2 separate regions of the Homo sapiens genome follow, and region 2 is linked to region 1. Evidence: fine-mapped expression QTL. Tissue or cell type: whole blood. Region 1 holds a variant in brackets; the other region holds the start of a gene. All regions are shown on one strand. Distances are from middle to middle.

What was found. PIP is the estimated chance that this variant, and not a neighbour inherited with it, causes the effect.
Region 2: LYRM9 starts here. The variant in region 1 is fine-mapped to the expression of LYRM9 in whole blood (TOPMed, PIP above 0.99).

What each region holds. Positions count from the first base shown.
Region 1 is chr17:27,852,007-27,862,523 of GRCh38, reverse strand. LOC124903961 (a long non-coding RNA gene) reads left to right here and starts at 5,795. Exons shown (of 2, transcript XR_007065681.1): 1 at 5,795-6,062; 2 at 7,520-7,927. The variant C/A (reference allele first, on the strand shown) is at 5,771.
Region 2 is chr17:27,887,988-27,898,504 of GRCh38, reverse strand. LYRM9 (LYR motif containing 9) reads left to right here and starts at 5,140. Exons shown (of 4, transcript NM_001076680.3): 1 at 5,140-5,188. RefSeq lists a silencer at 4,959-5,508 and enhancers at 8,519-9,470, 9,471-10,422.

The DNA.
Region 1 (10,517 bases):
TTCTACATATGTTTAGTGGATATTACTCTTAACATGGAGCCAGGTGCTGGGTGGGTACTTGGTGTATATTATCTCAAATTCTGGCAGCAACCACATGAAGAGGTGCTGTCGTTTTCATTTTCTGATGAGGACACTGGGGCTCAGAGAAATGAAGGACTGGCCCAGTTTCTTACGGACATAAGGTGGTACAGCTGGGATTGACACTGGGTCTGTGTGATTCCAACACTCTGTCAATTTGCTGCATATGAATCAGGTTCTTTGGCCAGGTGGTGGCTACTATGGGCGGTGGTGGCTGTTCATTCTCAGCAGTTCCGAAATGACATCACTGATAGTGCGAGGTAATACCTTGTACCCAGGGCAGAGAGTTCAGCACCCTCTGCATTGGCAAATCAGAGATGAGTCACTTGCCTGCTGACATATGACTCCTGATAGAAGGGACTTGGAGTAGCAGTCAGGTTGAAAGGGGAGCAGCAAGTTCATTTGGGCAGCACTCATATTGCTTTTTATTTTTATTTTTTTGAGACAGAGTCTTACTCTGTTGCCCAAGCTGGAGTGCAGTGGCCTGATCTTGGTTCACTGCAACCTCCGCCTTGAGGGTTCAAGTGATTCTCCTGCCTCAGCCTCCTGAGTAGCAGGGACTACAGAGGTGTCCCACCACACCCAGCTAATTTTTGTTTTTTTTAGTAGAGATGGGGTTTTGCCATGTTGGCCAGGCTGGTCTTGAACTCCTGGCCTCAAGTGATCTGCTAGCCTTGGTCTCCCAAAGTGCTAGGATTACAGCGTGAGCCACTGTGCCTGGCCTCTTATTGCTTTTTATGGACTGCATATTTATATGAGGTTGCTTTGGAGTGGCCTGATAGAATTATGGGTGGCTAAAACCCCTTACACAACCACTGTGGATGAAGTAAAAAGAAAAAGTTGAGGGGAAAGGTTCTGGCTCTGGGAAGCAGAAGGCAGAAATACAGTTGCAGAAAGTTGTGTGTCTGCATCAAAATAATCAATCACCCAGCTGTGTCATCCAGCCTGAGTCAGACCCCAGAGGGCACCTCATAGAGAGTAGATGATGCTGCTGTCAGTGGGAAAAACTACTAGGAACAATCAGGACTGATGGATGTTGTGGAGTGAGCCCTCAAGTGCTCATCATCCAAATTAGAAGTTACTCAATGAACAGTTGTAGGCAGAGAGAGGGACTTGGTGGGTCCCTGTTGACTGGAAGTGAGTTGAACCTTGGGCTCTGGAAGACAGAAACCATCACTGTGAAAAGGCGGGTGAGCTGTTGTTCCCTTTACTTTCCTTGTGCATTGTTTCACATTTGTTTGGGTTGGTGAAGATAATCTCAACACTCCTCAAATGGCAGCACTGATAATGCCAGGCAATGTCTTTGTGTACAAGGCAAAGTTCAGCGCCTTCTGGATTGACCAATCAGGGATGAGTAACTTGCTGGTTGTCATTTGATCCCTGATAACCGGGACCCTCATCTCTCCCTTTCAGCTTTAATGAATGAAATGGTAGCAATAGTTAAAGATGCTGTTGCCCAAAGAAGTATTGATTTTATAATTTGTTTCCTCCATTCTTCACCCTTTAATTACTGATTGGATTCAAGGTTCTGGTTTTCAGCAGGTCATGACAAATCTAGCAAATAAATAATAGCGCAGTAAGCTTTAAGTTCATTATTTTCATTGGCATCAATGCCACTATCATTTTTCATTCCATCTTGATTCAGTTCAATACAATTCAATATGTTTTTGAGCCCCTAGTCATTCTAAACATTGTGGCAGGCACTGAGGAGACAGTAATGCATCTTTAAATACGGTTCCTGTTCTCATGAGGCTTACAGTCCAGGGGGAAGACAAACATGAAAGAAGCAACTATATGCCCATTTAGAATAATCACTAAGGGATGCTATAGGAAAGTGTAACATGGAGATCCAACCTAATCTTGATGGGTGGAGCGGTGAATGGACACAGGGAAGATCTCCCAGGGGAAGTAAGATTCCAGCTAAGAATTGAACGATGAGTGTTTTTGGGCAGGGGGATGGAAGCGGGATGGGGTCAGGAAATGAAGAGTATTTTAATGGAGAAAACAGCAAGGCAAAGCTCTATGGTGGAAAGGGTGTAGCATCTTCATGGACCTAAAGGAAGTCGAGGTATTTCAGAGCACAAGGAGGAGAGTCATGGACGATGACCTCAGAGAGCTCAGCCAGAGCTGTGCAATGGTTTGGGACTTTATACCAAGGGATTGGGAAGCCTGGATTAAGTGTTTGGGATGTAGTATTCTAAGCAGGTATAACAATAGCAAACACTTATATTGTGTTTACTATGTGCCAGCCACTGTTCCAAGCACCTTGAAAACATTAATTAATTTATGTAGAGACCCATTGCACCCTGTTTTCTGGTACCAGGAAGCAAGACCAAGCCAAAGTCTATCTGGAAAAGCCAAGAGTCAGATGCTGGAGAGACCAGAGAACAGAGGCAAGCTTGTTTTAGCAAAAACTTGGAGTCAAGTTCTTGGGGTCTGGCTGAGATTAGCCTGAAGGAGGGCAGGTCAGGAATCATCCAAGACAGCCGAGTGACTAGAGATGGACAGTTTGGGGTTTCTTGGCTCAGCTTAGATAGCAGAAGGTGCATGGCACCCGGAGCCTGGTGTGCTGGGCTGGTCCATCTCCTGCTTTTGGTGTGAACTGCAGGAAATAATTGAGGTGAATCTGATGCTCTCGTATAGGGTATATGGACAATAGAATACTAATGCGAGACCAATATGTGAATGAGTAGGAGTATTTCTGTGTTATGGTCAGAAGTCGGAATTCTAACTGGCACCAACATTGACCAGCTGGTCACCTGTCAATTGGTAATACAGGGAATGCCCACTCTGTGTGCACCTCGTGGGGGCAGAGTTGGGGATGAGCATGGATGGTATCATGAAAAGTGCCCTGGCCAAGGGCTGAAGAGGTTGGACTCTAGTGCTAGTTCTGCTGCCTTTTAGCCATGTGAACTGGCACAAACCACCCACTCTGCCTGAGTCTGTTTTCTCATCTATAAGATGGGCTTTATGGAGTTGTTATGAGGATAAAACGAAATCTTATATGCGAGTGCATCTTTCAAGCGGTAACATATAACTGTAGCAGGGTGATTGGATGCTAGAGAAGCTAGCTGTGCTGCAAACCAACATAACATGAGTGTGCCTCAGAGTGCTAACTTCGTGATTTGACATTGTTTGGGAAATGTTGTTGGCAAATATGTATGTGTGCTTTCAGGACCCCTCTTCCCAGAAGAGCCCACCTGGAAGGTAAATGTGGGTCAAATGATTGCATGTGGCAGACTCGAGGCAAACCGGACAGTTGTCATGTGACTGGTGTGGCATGCTCACAGCAGCATGGACAGTTGTCTTGTAGCTAAGCTAGGCAAGCTAGGCTCATGGCATAGTGGACAGCTGTCATGTGGTTGGTGTGGCAGGCTCATGGCAGAGTGGACAATCATCATGTAGCTTGTGTTTCAGGATAGACAGCTATGATAGTCACTCCTTCTTCTCTCCCGTGCCCTTTCCCTCTCTCTCTGATAACAACACCCCCATCCGGCTTCCCAGGAACCAGCTACCCTCTACCCAGATGACCATGACTAAGGCCCAGACTACCTAGAATTCCGAGGGGCAGATTGATATGGGCTGGAGTGGTCAGAGAAAGCTTCGAGCAGACCCAGGAAATTGAGCTATACCTTGAAAGGCAGACAGGATTGAGGCAGTCCTGTCTCACCTGAGGAGAAGGCATTTCAGATGGTGGGGTCAGCTAGAGGTATAATTAAATGTGGGCCTGGGAGGAGACTCAGACTAGATGGCAGGGTGCTTGCAGGAGATGGTGAGAGATAATCAACAAATCAGCTCAACCTCAATCCACTAAGTCTAGACTACACGCACGGCACATTCCCAACTGTATTAGTCTGTTCTCATGCTGCTAATAAAGACATATCCAAGACTGAGTAATTTATAACAAAAAAGAGGTTTAATGGACTCACAGTTCCTTGTGGCTGGGGATGTCTCATAATCATGGCGGAAGGTGAAAAGCATGTCTTACGCAGCAGAAGACAAGAGAGAAAGTGAGAGCCAAGCGAAAGGGGAAACCCCTTACAAAATCATCAGCTCTCATGAGACTTATTCACTACCACGAGAACAGTATGGGAGAAAATGCCCCCATGATTCAGTTATCTCCCACCAGGTCCCTCCCACAACATGTGGGAATTATGGGAGCTACAATTCAAGATGAGATTTGGGTGGGGACACAGCCAAACCATATCACCAACCAACTTATTCCAAGTCTGTCCTTCCTTAATTACCCATATTTTGATCCCACATCCATCACTCATTGTCAGGAAGTTCTTTGCTGTGTCTAATCCAAGTCTGCATGGCTAAGGTAAGGTTGTTTTCCCCAGTTTTGTCTTCAGGTGAGGCGAAAGACACAGTTTATAGAAAGCCCCAGCAAGGAAAATATACTGGTGTTGACTCCAAATGTTGTCCCTGAGGAAAGCTTTTGGCATCTAGAATGGCCCAAGTGGCTGCAGCAGTCTGATCCTGCCTCCAAGAGGAACTCTGGCTATGCTGGGGATCTTGGGTATTTTCTTTTGTCTTGTCAACTGGTAAAAGGACTTGAGTTTCCCCCTCCAGCTCATAGGAGAGGCGAGAAGGAAAGAAAAAAAGAGGAATTCATCTTCTTTGTTTTTGCGGTGGAAATTATTCGCCTGTACCAATAGCATATTAAGATATAATATTTAAAAGGAAAATGGCACAGTTTCTTCAGAGCTAAATGTTTATTGTTGACTCAAACATGGGTTCTTCTGATTATATTAAAGTTGCCCTGGAAGCAAGAGAAGGGATCCTGGCATCAGAGTGACCTGGGCTCGTATCCTGACCTGGACACTAGTGAGGTGTGAGACCTTAGGCAAGCGAGTACACTTGTCTCAGCCTCAGTTTCCTCATCAGTAGAATGGGGGTGGGGGCTGAGGGCAGTAATCCTTCTCCATAGAATTGTTATACAAATGACCACTTTATAGAACAAACAGAGGCTGCGGGTTGAAGATTCCCATCCTTCACTTATTCTCACTCTTTTCTGTTGCTTCGTCCTTTACTGGTCCCTCCTAGGCCCTCTCTCCTGGTCTGTGCCTCAGACTTCCTAGAGGGGACTCCAGGGCACAGCTCACAGCAGCCTCCCTTCATCAGCACCGGGAGCCTACTTCCCCCACCCAGAGGGACAGGAAACTCCTTCTGGAGGTGAGCCCCTGGCCTCTCTTTCATCCTCTGTCATCAAGCCAGGGTGATGAAATTGAGTGGCCCTCACTGTCAAGTGCCCTTTTTACTGGAATTTAATCAGAACTCACAGATCAACTCTTTGGTCATTGCAGTTGAGAAGCTCAAGACATTCCAGCCTTACCCGCTTTGTTCTGCTTTTCCTGATATTGCAAATACTTTTGGATGCTTATTTTTATTCAGGAAAGCACTGAGTATCAGACTTTTTCATGAGAGTTCCCTGTGGAGAGATGATTGCATCTCTAGAGGCCAGTTACTGCTTTAGAGACCCACAGCGCAGCTTTTCAGCAAGAAGCCTAATTAAACAAGTTTGGGAAAGTCCCCGAACTGTGTTTCTGTGGGGTCCTGAGACAGCCTGATTTCAAGGTAAAATGGAGGCCCTTTCCTGGAAATGATGCAATTGACCAAAACAAATACTTTCATCCAACCTCCCTTTCCAAAGGCCCCTCTGTTGGTGGATTCCCTTTGGGGGCTGTGT[C/A]AGGAATCAGAGAGTGGGGTAGGGGCCAGGACTCCCTAAATCCTTTCTGTCTGAATAGCAGAGGGGAGTTTTGGCTGAAAGCTGTTTAAAAGATAAATTAATTTTCTAACTCATTAGTTTATTTAATCCATAATTCCTATCATGTAAATTTATTTTGTTATATAGAATAGGTAAGATATTTGCCTGGTTCAGAATTCAGTAAAAGGATCTCCTAACCCAGTCCCAATTGTCTGATTTCCCTCCCTAGAGGGAAGTAACAGACCAGTTTCTTATGCCTCCTTTCAGAGATATGGTATGTATAGAAAAACTGTACATCTTTTCTTCTGGTGCTCTCTTTTTTGATTTTTAAAAACTTAATATATCGTGGAGTTCTTTTCAAAACAATGCATAGAAGTCTTCATTTTTTTATGGTTCATATTAGTCCACTGCATAGAGATATCACAACTTTTTCAGTAATCTCCTATTAAGGGACAGCTGGTTTATTTACATTCTTCTACTATTATAAGCAACACAGCAGTGAATAACCCTGTACAAATGTCTTTTCATACATGGGCAAACATCTGTAGGATAAGTTCTTATAAGCAGAATTGCTAAGTGAAAATGTATACACATTTGTAATTTTGAAAGATGTGCTGAAATTGCCCTACAGAGAAATGGGACCAGTTTACACTGCCACTAACATCTAAGAGTGTTTTCAACATACAAGTGTTTTATTTATTTAGTTAGTTAGTTATTTAGTTAGTTGGTTTTGAGACAGGGTCTCACTCTGTTGCTCAGGCTGGAGTGCAGTGGCACAATCATGGCTCACTGCAGTCTTGACCTCCTGAGCTCAAGTGATCCTCCCACCTCAGCTTCCCAAGTAGCTGAGACCACAGGTGTGCACCGCCATGCCAGGCTTTTTTGTTTGTTTGTTTTCTACAGATGAGGTATCACTATGTTGCCCAGGCTGGTCTTGAACTCCTGGGCTTAAGTAATCCTCCTACCTGGGCCTCCAAAAGTGCGTGGATTACAGGTGTGAGTCACCATGCCTAGCCTAGTGTTTTATTGAGTGTTTATTATGTTCCACATACACTGGGTGGTTAAAAAGGTGAGCTCACCCTTGAGTGGCTTCCCTTTTCTCATAAGGTAAAGGCCAGTCCCTACTTGGCCATCGCCACCTTGCCTGCCCCAGCCCCAGAGTGCCCTGCCTTCACCCCAGCCCCACTGCAGCCTCCCTCTTGCCCAACTCACCACCCTTAGGCAATCTCACCATGTTTTAGTTCTTCAAACATGCTAAGCTCCTTCCACGCATGGGGTCTTTGTACATGAAATGCCACATGGCTAGATGTCCCTTTCTCCCTGTTCCTCACGTGGTTAGCCACTGTTCACTCTTCAGCTCTCAGTTCAATCACCATTTCCTCTGGGAGCCCTTCTCTCACTTCCATGACTAGGTCCCTTATGACTAAGTTACAAGCTCCCCAGCTCTGTGTACAGTTGTCCCTCGGTATCCGTAGAGGACCGGTTCCAGGACCTCCCATGGATACCAGAATCCTAGGATGCTCAAGTCCCTTATATGAAATGGCACAGTATTTGCATAGAATGTACACAATCCTTCTGTGTACTTTAAATCACCTGTAGATTACCTGTAATACTTCATATGATGTCAATGCCATATAAATAGTTGTTATATTCTATTATTTACATTTTTATTGTTGTACTGTTATTTTTATTGTTATTTATTTATTTTAAAAAATATTTTTCTATCCACAGTTGGCTGTATGCACAGATGGGGAACCTACAGATACTTAGGGCCGACTGTACTTCTTGTAGGCCCAGGAACTATTACCCATTTTATTTCTCTGATGACTTACTATTGGTCTTTCTTGCTGTACTGTGAGATCCATGAAGGCAGGGACCATGTCTGTTTTTCTCTCCGTTGTATCTCCGAAGCCCAGCACTGTGCCCGGTCCCTAGTAGGCACGCTGTAATAATTGTTTGAGTTTGTTCAGTAAGATCGAGGACTCTTGATTAAGAGTTCAGTATGTGCAGGCACTGTTCTAGGCACTGGAGATACATCAGTGCATAAAACAGACAAAATTCCTGCTCGCTCCAGCTTGACATTCTGATAGTTGTTGGGGGAAGGAATATACAGTTAATAAATAAATAAAAATGAGCAAATACGTGTTATGTCAGATTGTGATATACGCCATGAGAATAAATAAATCAAGGTGGAGCAGCAGAGCAAGATGGAGCTGGGGAGCCATTTAAATAGAGTCTTCAGGGAGGGTCTCTTAAGTAAGGTGACATTTAACAGAGAATGAATGGAGGAGTGAGTCATGAGGATATTTGGAGGAGGAGCATTTCAGATGGAGGCAATAGCAAGTGCAAAGGTCCTGAGGCAGACCTGTAATAGACATATTAGAGGAAGCAAGAAGGGCCACGTGGCTGGAATGAAGCACGCCTGTAATCCCACCTACTCCAGAGGCTGAGGCAGGAGAATCACTTCAACCCGGGAGGCGGAGGTTGCAGTGAGCCGAGATTGTGCCACTGCACTCCAGCCTGGGCAACAGAGCAGGACTCTCTCTCAAGAAAAACAAAAATAAAACAAAACACTGTTCTGAGAATGGAAAGACATAAATAATTGCAAGTTACATAACTGATAAATGACATGTGTCTTAGAATATACAAAGTGCTCTCAAAATCCAACAATCAGAAAGCAAGCACATTTAAAAAGGGCAAAAGCACTCACAAAAGACAAATACTGTACGATTCCACTTATATGAGGTATACTTAGAGTAGTCAAAATCACAGAGACAGTAGAAGGGTGGCTGCCAGGGGCGAGGGGGATGGGGAAATGGGGAGTTATTGTTCAACGGGTGCAGAGCTTTAGTTTCACAAGAGGGAAAGAGTTATGAAGATGGATAGTGGGGATAGTTTCACAATATCATGAATATATTTAGAACCACTAAACTGTAAACTTAAAAACATTAAGATGATAAATCTTTTGGTATGTGTGTTTTAACACAGTAAAAAATTTTGAGGGAAAAAAGGGCAAAAGACATGAACAGATGTTTCACCACAGAAGATATATGGATGACCAAGAGGCACATGAAAAGATGCTCAGCATCATTGGTAATTAGTAAAATGCAAGTTAAAACCACTATGATATATCACTATACATCTCTTAGAATGCCTAAAATAACAAATATTGACAATACCAAATGATAACTAGGGTGCAAAGTAGCCAGCACTCTTATACATCTCTGGTGGGATTGCAAAAAGACTACAAACACTTTACAAACCACTTGGTAGTTTCTTGTAAAGTTAGCATACATCTACCATATGGCCCAGCAATTTCACTCCTGGAGAAATGAAAGCTATGGTCATGCAAAACCTGTACATGAATGTTTATAGTTATTTATAGTCTATAGTTATAGTTTATAGTTACTTGTAATTGCCCAAACTGGAAGCTACCCAAATCTCTGTTAGTTGAGGAATGTATAAACAAACTGTGGCACACCCAAACAATGAAATACTACCTAGCGGTAGAAAGAAATCGACCATGGATACACACAAAAACATGGGTTGTTTTCAAATGCCTTCCGCTAAGTGAAAGAAGCAAAAATACCTACAGAAGTAATAGGCTACATACTGTGTGATTCCATTTATTTGACATTCCAGAAAAGGCAAACCTAGAGGGGCAGAAAATAGATCAGTGGCACCAAATATACCTGAGATTAAAGTCAGCCACATGATCTCTTTGAATTTCTGTTTCTTGATCTATAAAATGGGAATAATTTTACCTACCTAAGGGAATTGTGAGCACTCAGTGCCAAAATATATAAAAAATCTAGAAAATTGTGCTCAGAAAATGTTAGTTTTCTCCCCTTTCCTTTCTGCCTCATCAGGCAGATCACTTCTACAGATGGCCAGTTTCATCTATGAAGTGTTCACTTGTATGGGTTTTCCTCTGACAGGGGAGCCTTATCTTTAGATTCTGGATGCACCTTGCTTGTCCTGTAGGTGCCGACTGCTGCCACTGGTGTATCTGCTGTGACTTGAGGGGTGATCTCAGCTTGAATCCAACCCAAGGCTCAGGCATGTCTGGAAAACCGATGGGATGGCTTTCCAGACCTGATTTGTATTAATGGTGGAACCTCCCCTCAGAGAACTCATTCTAAGCAAAGAAGGAGCCACGGTTGATGAATGGACAAGAAGGGGCCCTTCAGAATGACTGAGGCAGGGAAAGAGGGCAGCGACTCTGATGACCTCTCACTCAAATTCACACACCTACCCAGCTTCCGTGGACTGTTCAGGGATCCCCTCTCTTCCACTTTGCACCAGAAAGCCCTGCAGCTTTGCTATTTCAAGGGCCCCAGGGTCAGGATATGATGGAAGATGGTGGTATCTGGTGGCCATGGGGTGCTCTGTGCCAAGTCCCTAGAGAAACCAGGGTTCAGCAGGAGAGGACTCAAGCACAGGCATACATGAAATACCTCCAGGGAACTCACAGAAGTACGAGCATGTGGGACACAGCTCAGGGCATTTTGAGTTATTATTGTTAATGGGGAAGCCTCTGTGTCCCCAGTCTGGTGATGGTGGGGGTGTCCCCAGTCCTCCCTTTTCCTTCTGAGGATTGTCATGTAATGTCTACAGAAGGCTGTGATCCTTCCAGTGTGGCGAGGTGTTTGAAGATAAGCCCAGAGCATGTAGCATCTACTGAGGACACGCCATCCACACAACCCTGCTATGTTCTAACAGGAGGCTC
Region 2 (10,517 bases), 36 kb before region 1:
CTGAGAAACAGAGTTATTTTCTTCCCAGGCAACATCCATTATGCCTTTGAGGATTGGATCATAAATTTAAAGTAAAACCCATCAGCTCTGTTGTGTAATTTTCTCAGCATTAATCTGCTTGGGTGCAGGTTGGAGAAGGAGGATGGTAGATTCATCCAGAGTGAGTGTGACAGAGGCCAAGAGGAACCAGGGAGTTGAGGGTGTTGGTAAGAGAGTGATTTTAATGGTGGACCACAGGAAGTGAGGCCTAGGCACTGGGTGGGATACTGCTACTCAGTCCCAGCTCTCACTCATGGGGCTCTAGTGCAGAGAGAGATATGACTGATATAATAACACAAATGCATATCTATCTACATGTACCCACACATATATATGTATGTATTATGTGTAAATGTCCATGTATATGTAACTACCACAACTGTCAGTGCCCCACCCTTTCGCCTTACCACTGCAGTATACCCGGCTGATTTCCAACTGCCAGCATCTGTATCTCTTTGCCTGAGATCATGGCAGGCTAGAAGTACCAGGGAGTTAGTGCCCCCGAGAGCACTGTGTGACCTGTAACAAACAGGAATTGGTGTATAAATACCCCAGGGTGGGATAACCAAGGTGTGGGTTCCACACTGTTTCCCCAGCAGGACGAAGCTCAGTGGTCCCTGGTGGTAACTTGCTTGGGAAGGCTCTCTTCACAGGCTGCCTTCTTTTCCTTGCCTCACTTCCCCGCTTCCTTCCTTCCTTTCTTTCTTTTCTTTTCTTTCTTTTTTTTTTTTATGATGGAGTTTCACTCTTGTCGCTCAGGCTGGAGTGTAAGGGCGCACTCACTACAACCTCCGCCTCCTGGGTTCAAACGATTCTCCTGACTCAGCCTCCTGAGTAGCTGGGATTACAAGCTATCACCACCATGCCTGGCTAGTTAATTTTTGTATTTTTAGGAGAGATGGGGCTCTCATCATGTTGACCAGGCTGGTCTTGAACTCCTGATCTCAGGAGATCCACCCACTTTGGCCTCCCAAAGTGCTGGGATTACAGGTGTGAGCCACTGTACCCAGCCTCACTTCCCTATTTTCTCACTTAGTGTTTTCTAGAACCACCTTTCAAATGAACTAGTTGTTCTCAAATCCTTGCTTTGGGGGCCTCTCTGGGGGGAGTCCAAATTGGGGTATATGTAACTATAAATTGTGATGCATGCCATGGAGAAAAGTACAGTCTACTCTTTGGGTGGGGGGACCTGCTCCATTATGGGGTGGGAATGTGGATGTCAGGGAAGGCGAGGAAGAGATCTATTAGCTGGGATCTAAAGGAGGAGCAGGGCAGAAGGACACGATACAATGAGTGTCTGAAAGGCCACTGTGGCTGCTACAGAGGACGGGGACATGGATGGAAGCTTAAGAGGCCAGACCCTGGAGGGCCTCATAGGACATGGTAAGGAGTTTGGCGTATGTATTCAGAGAACACGGAGAAGTCATTAAGGGGACTACAGCAGGACAGCGACAAGACTATACCTGTCTCTAACCATAGTGGAGAAGGACAGGAGAGCCCGCATGGCAGGGATAGAGTTCAGAGGCCTCCGCTATGACCCAGGGTCTTGCATGGAGTTTTGCACATGAAGGAGTCTCAACAGATGTTTGCTGAAGTGGAAGGTAACTATTAACCATGTAGTTGACTGACCAGAACACCCAATTTCCTGGCCAAGCCGATAAATGATTTCCCTTCATTAACGTTGCCTTTTTTTTTTTTTCTGGGCTGCTACACTTAAAACTCTATCATCCCTTTCTCTTGGGGACAGCATCAACAGGATAACTCCCTTCTACTTTTACTTATTCTCCACTTCCCTCCTTTTCACTTTCTTCTTTCTCTCCTTCTCCTCTTCACCCCTTTGTCTCTCCTCTTTCTTCAAATAATCCTATTTAATAAAGTTGATTATTTCTTACCGTCTCCATTCCTATTAATGGTGGCATGTAATTCTTGTCTCTGGACATCTCAAGACACTGCAGATATAGTCAGTGGAAACAGAATTACACTTTGTGAGCAAGGTAATTTTAAGTGGATCTTTAGTCAAATGCTGTCAAAATGCAAAAAAGAAGAATGTTCCCAAGCGCATTCACTCCTTTGGTAATATTGCCACATACACATCCAGCATGCACTTGAAATTTTTATGAAAAAGAAATTCCATTCCAAAGGTGATTCATACAAAACATTATGTGTATGTGTGTATGTTATTTACAATTTGAAATCATGAGACATAGAACATATTTTCAAGAGATAAAAAAAGTGGGGACATATTCAGAGATAACATACATCTGATCACCAATGTGGTTTCACATGTGGTCACTGTTAATAAATTACTACAGAACACACTAGAAACAGAGAATGACATATACCAGTCAGCAAAGTTGGATTTATGGTGCTGCAGAAAGTAACATAGTATGGAGGACCAGGAAGGCTGAAACCCAGCCCATAAATTAATCTCCAAGTGTATGTTGTAAATAGTCACAATTGTACCCTTTTTCCTCTTGTGTTCCCTTTTATAAAAATATTGAAATCCTTGCTCATCCCTTTCTTTTGCCCAGCAATTAAAGAAAAACAAACTAGATGTCTGAGATTTCACATAACCTTTCATACCCAATATTTTTATTGTCTTAAATCTTGAGTAGTCAGCAAGAGTTGTGTTTTGCAATACGCTGGGGTAAGGAAAATCTGTTCACCCCATTTTCCATTTTCGCCCCTGGTGTCCTCTTCTGGCATATTCACCCATCACCCCATGGCCCTCACCCTGTGTTCTGGCAGGATTTGAGACATGCAAATTGCAAGCTGGTAAATAGCAGCTTTGCATATTTTGAATAGAAGAGAACAACGTGGTACCACTCATTCTGTTCTCAGGGAAATCTGAGATAATAGGGAGCAAGATCGAGGGCAGACCGAGGGTCTTAAGTATTTTCTTAAAAGTGTTTATTATGCTTATTAAACCTATTGTACACTGATGAATTAATTTGAATTATTTACATGGTCACCCTTGGAGACAATAACCTGATTTAATCAGAGGATGCAAACGTTATCATTTCTCTTTGAAATCTAAAAACAGGTTTAAACTGGAAACGTCAGGACTTCTTGTATCTTTCCCTACAAATACTGGTTACAAATCTGCAGTTGTCAGGCTAAATGACATAATGTCAGAAATCAAGAGAATGTGGTGTATTTCTTAGGAAAGTCAATAAACTCCCCTGTGCGAACATGTCCCCTGGACAGTGGGTGACTAATTTCTCAAGTAAAAGGTCTTTCTATTTTGTTTATCTGTAAATATCATGCACTGTCTGACATAAGGGGGTTCATCTGCTAAAATTTCAGTGTATAGGAAAATGACATGGTAAAAATGGTTGGGGTTTTATCAGATTATGAGACTGGTGTCATTTTAAGTGAATGTTTGGACTAGTAAAAATTATTTCATTTTACTATTGAAGCTGTAAGAACCTAAGGTTGCTGTCAAGTTGAAAGGTTCAAATTCAATTATTTTCAAATCTAGGTTTCCATTGTGACTTGGAAAAAAAATTAGAGATTATTGTTCAAATCTCTCCTACTTTGGATTTTTTTTTCTTAGTATTTGGATGTTTATAAGAAATTGTTGTGAAAGTTAAAATCTTGTGCGTTTGTAAAATTGGAAGAGGCACAAGTGATTCTGAAGGTGGAGCCTTTCAGAGGTAAAGCAAACAGCTTGCATCTTCAATATTTTATGAGATCTAGGTATTAGAACCATGTTTCTGATGCAGGAATACAGCTATCTAGGAACAAAAGGGAGATGAGACTACAGAACAGACTGTGAAATTTCTTAAAATTATTAAATGATCCTAAGACTGAGCACAGGAGTGGATGATGTTACTGCAGATTGTTCTTAATAAGGGCTTTAAAAGCTTAATGATTTATTGATTGGCTCTGCATTAATGACGTGCCCTTGATTATGCATGTGTAAATAAGAGGGCTGATTTATGAGGGTACAATTGTATCTTTCAGATATATTTGTCCAAGTCTACATCTTTAAAATAAATGGAAGCAATTATCTGAATATTTCAAGGGAGGGAACCCCACCTTCCCATCCCCCACCCCCGATTTGAGGGAAGTCTAGTATGTTAGGTGAAGAGAAAAAAAAAGAAAAGAGGAAGCTCTAAAGGGAGTTAGGAACAAAACAAAACTTCCGTTAAGAAATATCCCTGCTTCTCTTATCCTAAGAGAAGAAAAACAGATTCCCAGGTGCCACCGGGGAGCAATGTTTTACTTAAAAAAAAAAAAAGAAAAAGGAAAAAGAAAAACCTGTAAGAAGTTGTCCTGTTAAATCAACGACACATGGAGTCTGAAGGAAATCAGCCTTTTCGTTACAAACAGGTTTAAAAAGCCCTGGAGAAGAGAGACGTGAACAGAAGCAATATTATCCACTAACAACCTAACTCCCGCTTAGACATCAGCTGAGAGATCAGCAGCATCATTGAACAGGGGGGTTTGTCTTAAGATAATGACTCATCTTGATTTCTTTCAGGATATAAAACTTGTATTTAAATCAATTCAGAGAAGCACTTGAGCTTTAAACATTAGAGAGCAGGGAGAGCCTATTTAATAAACAGCATTATTTCATTTTCAAAGAATGATACTGGCAGTAGCTCTAAGTTTAAATTTTGTATTATTTTCCTCAATTATAATTATAGATGGGTCTGAAAGGAAGCATGCTTATTACTGTCATATTTATTCTTTTGACAGGTGTTATGGGACTGTAATTTGGTGAAATGATTCAAAACGCAGATTCCTATCCAAACACAATTCTTGTCATCAACACGAGAGGTTCAGGAAAAGTCCTCCAGCAAGCCTTTCAGAGATCTTGAACACCCCATATTCATAGCACAATCCATATTCAGGAATAAGGAGGAGAGAGTGCCTTTAGGGCTTATATCCGGCGTAGCAACAGCCAGAAGGCAGAGTGGGTGTTTGAGGTAACAGGTAACGAAGGCTGTTAGTGGGGACAGCTTTCAACTGGGTGGGGTCGGATCTAGGAAGAGGCACCCAGTAGGACCCCGAGTCCCGCGCGCGGCCGGCAGAGGGCGCTGGGCTCACCGTCGCCGGGCAGGGGCGGTGCCGCTCAGTCCCCGGGGCGCAGGCGCACTCGTCGCCGCGGCGGCGTCCGGGGCTGGCGTTCCCCTGGAGGCTGGTGAGCCGCGCTGCGCAGGCCGAGGCCGAGGGCGGGGGCGCGGGGGCAGCGGCGGCCGGAGCCACTGGGTGGCGGGGGCGGGCTAGGGATGTGGAGGCCTCGGGTGTCCTCGGATCTATTGAAGACCTAGGGGCGACCCGCGCCGGCACCTTTTCCCTTGCGGTCTGCGCTCTTCCACCGGAGAGCTGAGTGCACCGGAGCGCGGCGCCCGGGCTTGACGCAGGCCTGGCCGGGCGGCCTCGGAGGAGCAGGAAAGGCCTGCAGCGCGAGCTAGGGGCGCGAGGTCCGGGGCAGCCCGGAGGCCAGCCTCTCAGAGGCTCACGGGCCTGGCCACTTTTAAAAGGAGAATGTCCCCTCCACCGTCCCTCTGCCCGCGGCACCCGGTGGCCGGAGCAACCTTGTCGTGATGATTTATGCTTCTGCGTAAGAGCAAGTTGCTCCGTGGCCAAAACCCTTTCGCTCCTAGGATTGATCCTTTTTGTGGTTATTGTTTTAAAAAGTTTTATTGAGATATAATTCACGAAGCATACAGTTCACCCATCTAAAGTGCACAATTCAGTGTCTTTTAGTGTGTTTGCAGAGTTGTGCAGCTGTCACCATAATGTTTTAGAACATTACCCCCCAAAAGAAACACCTCCTTTAGCTGTCACTCCCCCCTCCCATCTACTCCCATTCTCCCAGCCCTAGGCAACCACCAATGTACTTCTGTCTCTGTACTTTTGCCTATTCTGGATGTTTCGTATAAATGGAATCATACATTAAGTAGCCCCTTGTGACTGGGTTTGTTCACTTAGCGTAATGTTTTCTGGGTTCACCTGCCATAGGTTCTTGACTTCAGGACAGTTTCCTGCTGGCTTTAGTTTCCTCTGGTAACTTGGGAATCAATTGACATCTATGGAACTTCTGTTATGGTTCAGGTACTATAAACTGTGGAGGAGTGACTAATAACCGTATATATATTTTTCTTACTAATTTCCCTTCATTTCACAGGTGTTGAACTAATACAGTATAGTTTCTTGTTCTTCAGAAGCTTACAGTCAGCAAGGAACAGAAAGCCAAATAAAGTAGGAAAGGGTAAGATGTTCAACGCTGGGCGCAGTGGCTCATGCCCATAATCTCAGCACCGTAGGAGGCTGAGGAAAGAGGATCACTTGAGCCTAGAATTTTGAGACCAGCCTGGGCAACATAGTAAGACTTCGTTTCTATAAATAATTAAAAAAATTAGCCAGACGTGGTGGCGTGTGCCTGTGATCCCGGCCACTTGAGAGGCTGAGGTAGAATCGTTTGAGCCCGGGCAGTTGTGACTGCAGTGATCCCTGATCATGCTACTGTACTCCAGCCTGGGTGACAGAGTGAGACCCTGTCTCAGGACAAAAAAAAAAAAAAAAAGATGTTCAAGCACTTAAGATGTGCCAGCCCCTGTGCTAGGCACTTTCCATAAGTTAGCTAGGTTGGTCTTTACAAAACCCCTGTGAGGTGGGTTATTCTTTTCTCCAGTTTACAGTGGGGGAAGCAGAAGTCCAGAGAAGTCAACCAGGTTGGCCAGGATTACACAGCTAGTAGATAGCAGAGGTAGGCTTTTAAACTAGGGTTCTTTGTCTCCAAAACCTGCTCTAAGTTCTGTCACATCGATTATAATCACAATAAGTGATTACAGAGCAGTGTGATGACTGTAATAGGGGTGTGAACAGCATGGGATGAAAGCCTGAAGGAGGTGACAGGGAACTGGATCTCTAAGGATGAAGGGGAATTCTTGAGGCAGGTGAAGAAGTCAAGGTAGGGGAAAGCACAGCATGTTTCAGAGATGGTATTAACAATAACAGTTAGTAGGAAACATGTAGTGTGTGCCAGGCATCATGCTTAGTAGTCTAGGAGCGTTATTTCATCCTTACAACAGTCCTATGTAGGAAATACTATTTATTAGGGACCGCATTGACAGATGGGGAACAGACTTCGAGATAGAAGTTAAGAAACTCGTCCAGGGTCCTAGAACTAGCAGGTGATAGAACCAGGATTTGAACCCAGACTGTCTGATCCCAGAGTCCTCCAAGTTCAGTCTGTGGCTAAAATGCAGGAAGTGTGGGAAGGACAGCAGGAGGGGAGACTGATGAGAGGGATTGAAACAGATCTCAGAAGGCCATGGGTAGAGAACTCTCTACAGAGGTTCTGAGGAAGGGGAGTGACAGGGTGTGCTTTTTAGGAAGTGTTCTTGGGTGGCACCATGTGGATTGGGCTGGAAGGAGGGAGACAGATCAGGAGGTATTCGGATAGTCCCAGCCAGGTATGGGTACAAAGCTGGGAACCAAGGTAATGCCAACAGGGATGAAGGGGGCAGGGAGGGGGTGAGGGGACTTTAGAGCCTTGGCTATGTAGGAGAGGGACTGGGGGAGGCAGGGATTGCTGCCCCATTGCTAGCTTGGGAGAACACAGATGTGCAAGATGGAGCCCTGGAGTGGGTGGGGGTGGGAAGCAAAACCACTCCATTCCTATTTTTCAACTTTTCCCTTCAAGAAGAGTAATTGCATATTTAAAAAATGGCCTGTGCAGGCTTAATTTAGCGTGTATCAGTGCTCAATAGGGCATAATTTCTGGTTATTTTCTGCAGTTCCATTCTTTCGTCTTTTTTTAATATATGACTTTTTCCCACTTATTTTTAGGTGCCTATATCGGGACATAGATTAGGGAAAAGGACAGTGGGGTTAAATGGGACTGTGGGCCTGCTTCTCAACATCTGTGCCAGTGATAACACTTGGCTTCCAGGAAATTCCCTTTGTAGCTTTATTTTCTCTTTTTAAAAATTCTGTCATATTCTCCTTTGGATTTGGTAAGAGCTTTGTTGTTAAGCATTTCTTTAGTTGCTCCTTTCCTTTATCTGTGTAATTGATGTCAGCCTGGTGACTCTTTCTTTCTTTTGATTTTTTTTTTCCATCTATATGCAGGGGGAAGCTGCAGACGATGTCCTTGGGTTTCAGAAAGGCATGGAGCAAGGTTTTGTAGAGAAGATTGAGGAGTACTGGATAATAGTGCAGTCAAGTGCCTTTATAAGTGCTTGAACCTGGTCATGCATGAACCCTGCCAGAGTTCTTTGTGGGGTCCTTAGCCCTGATCTGGTCAGTATTTTTATGAGTGGCTCAGACATAGCAGGTAGATTCACGAAGCAGATAAGGGCATAGTCTTTGGAATCAAATAGACCTAGGTTCTATTCCGGGCCTTGCTCTATACTAGCCTTGTTGCTCTTGGCAAATTACTTAACCTCTCAGGGCCTCAGTTTCCTCATCTATAAAATGGGACTAATGATACCTCCCTTAAAATATTGTTGTGAGGATTAAATGAGGTAACATGAAAAGCTCTCAAACTTGGCATGTCCTACTCATTCCCTGGATGGGAGCCATCGGCTTTGCAGAAGGCTCTGGGTCAGAGAGCTAGGTACACCAGACTGTTCATCTCTGTGGTCCTAGGGCTGGGTCCAGAGTTGTACAGGTGCTAGATGCTCTGAATGGCATGGCGTAGTTGACTGATGCTTACAGTATATAGGGTTACTGTCTTTCTCTTTGTCTTTACCCTGTGTTTACCTGGGGTGTGACTGTTTCTGTGCTCTTATTTTGTTGAATTGAGTTGATATAACAGACCCCCCTAAGGATGGTGGCAGATTGTGACTCTGGAATGACCTCATAAAATAAAAGATGGGGAAAGAGACTTAAGAACAGCTCATGGAGCCGGGTGCAGTGGCTCACACCTATAATCACAGCACTTTGGGAGGCCAAGGCAGGTGGATCACCTGAGGTCAGGAGTTTGAGACTGGCCGACATGGCGAAACTCCGTCTCTACTAAAAATAGAAAAATTAGCCGGGCATCGTGGCATGGACATGTAATCCCAGCTACTGGGGAGGCTGAGGCAGGAGAATTGCTTGAACCCGGGAGGCAGAGGTTGCAGTGAGCCAAGATTGCGCCATTGCACTACAGCCTGGGGAACGAGAGCGAAATGCCGTCTCAAAAAAAAAAAAAGAAAAAAGAAAAAAAGAGCAGCACATGGAAAAATGCCTTTGAGCCAAATGCCAGGGCCACGTGAGGGCCCCAGCAGAGAAGCAGTCTGAGCTGCATTCCTTGAATTCCCAGGTCAAAGGAGGTGACAGGGCCACTGCCTGTGGAGTTGGTCAGAGCATGGCCAAACTGTTGTTTTCCCATGGGACAGCAGGTTTAAGAGTGGTATCAAAAATAAAGGTACGTGTGTTGAGAGGAGGGCAAGTGGGACAGAGACACTTTGAGAGGCGACAGCACCTCCCCGCTGCTTACATTGGAAAAGGGACTAGGGAGGGGCTGGGATAGTTGACTGTGAATAATGAAAAGCTGGGCTTGGGAGGAGGTGAGGGAAGATTTTGTCCCAAAGAGTAGAGCTCTTTGTGGAGTGAGTAGAACTTTACAGCGGGGAATTTTAACTCAGAACTGGAGGGACTTTCCAATAGCTTGAGCAGAGCGAAAATGGGGGACTTGTGAGTTTCCTGCCACTTGGAGCACATGTAGGGAGAAAAGCTGGGTGACTTCCTGCCAGGTGTGTTTTTAAAGCGATTTTTTATTAGGAAAATTTTCCAAATATATGGAAGTTAAAATAACAGCATGGTGTTCACCCTTAATGCCTACCATCTAAACGTGATCTGAACATTCTGCTGCATTTCTTCATCTTCCTCACTCTTCTCTCTGTGCTGTCTTTTGCTGAACTATTTGAAAGGAGGCTGCAGACCTGATGACATGTCACCTCTAAATCCTTCTGCCTGCGTCTCCTGAGAGTAAAGTGATTCTCCCACATAACCACATCGGTCTTATAACCCAAGAAAATTCATAATTCACACTATCGTTTCACATCCAGTGAAGATTTTCATTCAGGAAGTTGGTAAATCACTGTGACCACCATATGGAGAATGGCTGGTGGGGCCTGAGGGCAGGTGGATACCCTTCCAGCAACCCCAGCAAGAGCCTGAACTAGAGGCCTGACCTAGAGTAATGAGGGGTGATGAAGGCTGTTTCAAGGTAACCACAGGCCTCCCACTGAGCATGGTGGCACTGAGGAGGAGATGCCAGACCACAGAGCTGAGTGTGGAAGAGGCAGGAGGTATTCAGGAAGCAGAGAGGAGCACTGTAGGCAGAAGTAGGAGGATTCGTTCAAAATAGAAATTGAATGTCTACCAGGATAGTTAATTTTATGTGTCAACTTGGCTGGGCCACAGGAGGCCCAGGTATTTGGTCAAACATTATTCTGGGTGTTTCAATGCGGGTGAGATTAACATTTAAATTGTTCGATGGAGTAAAGCACACAGCCCTCTATAATATGGGT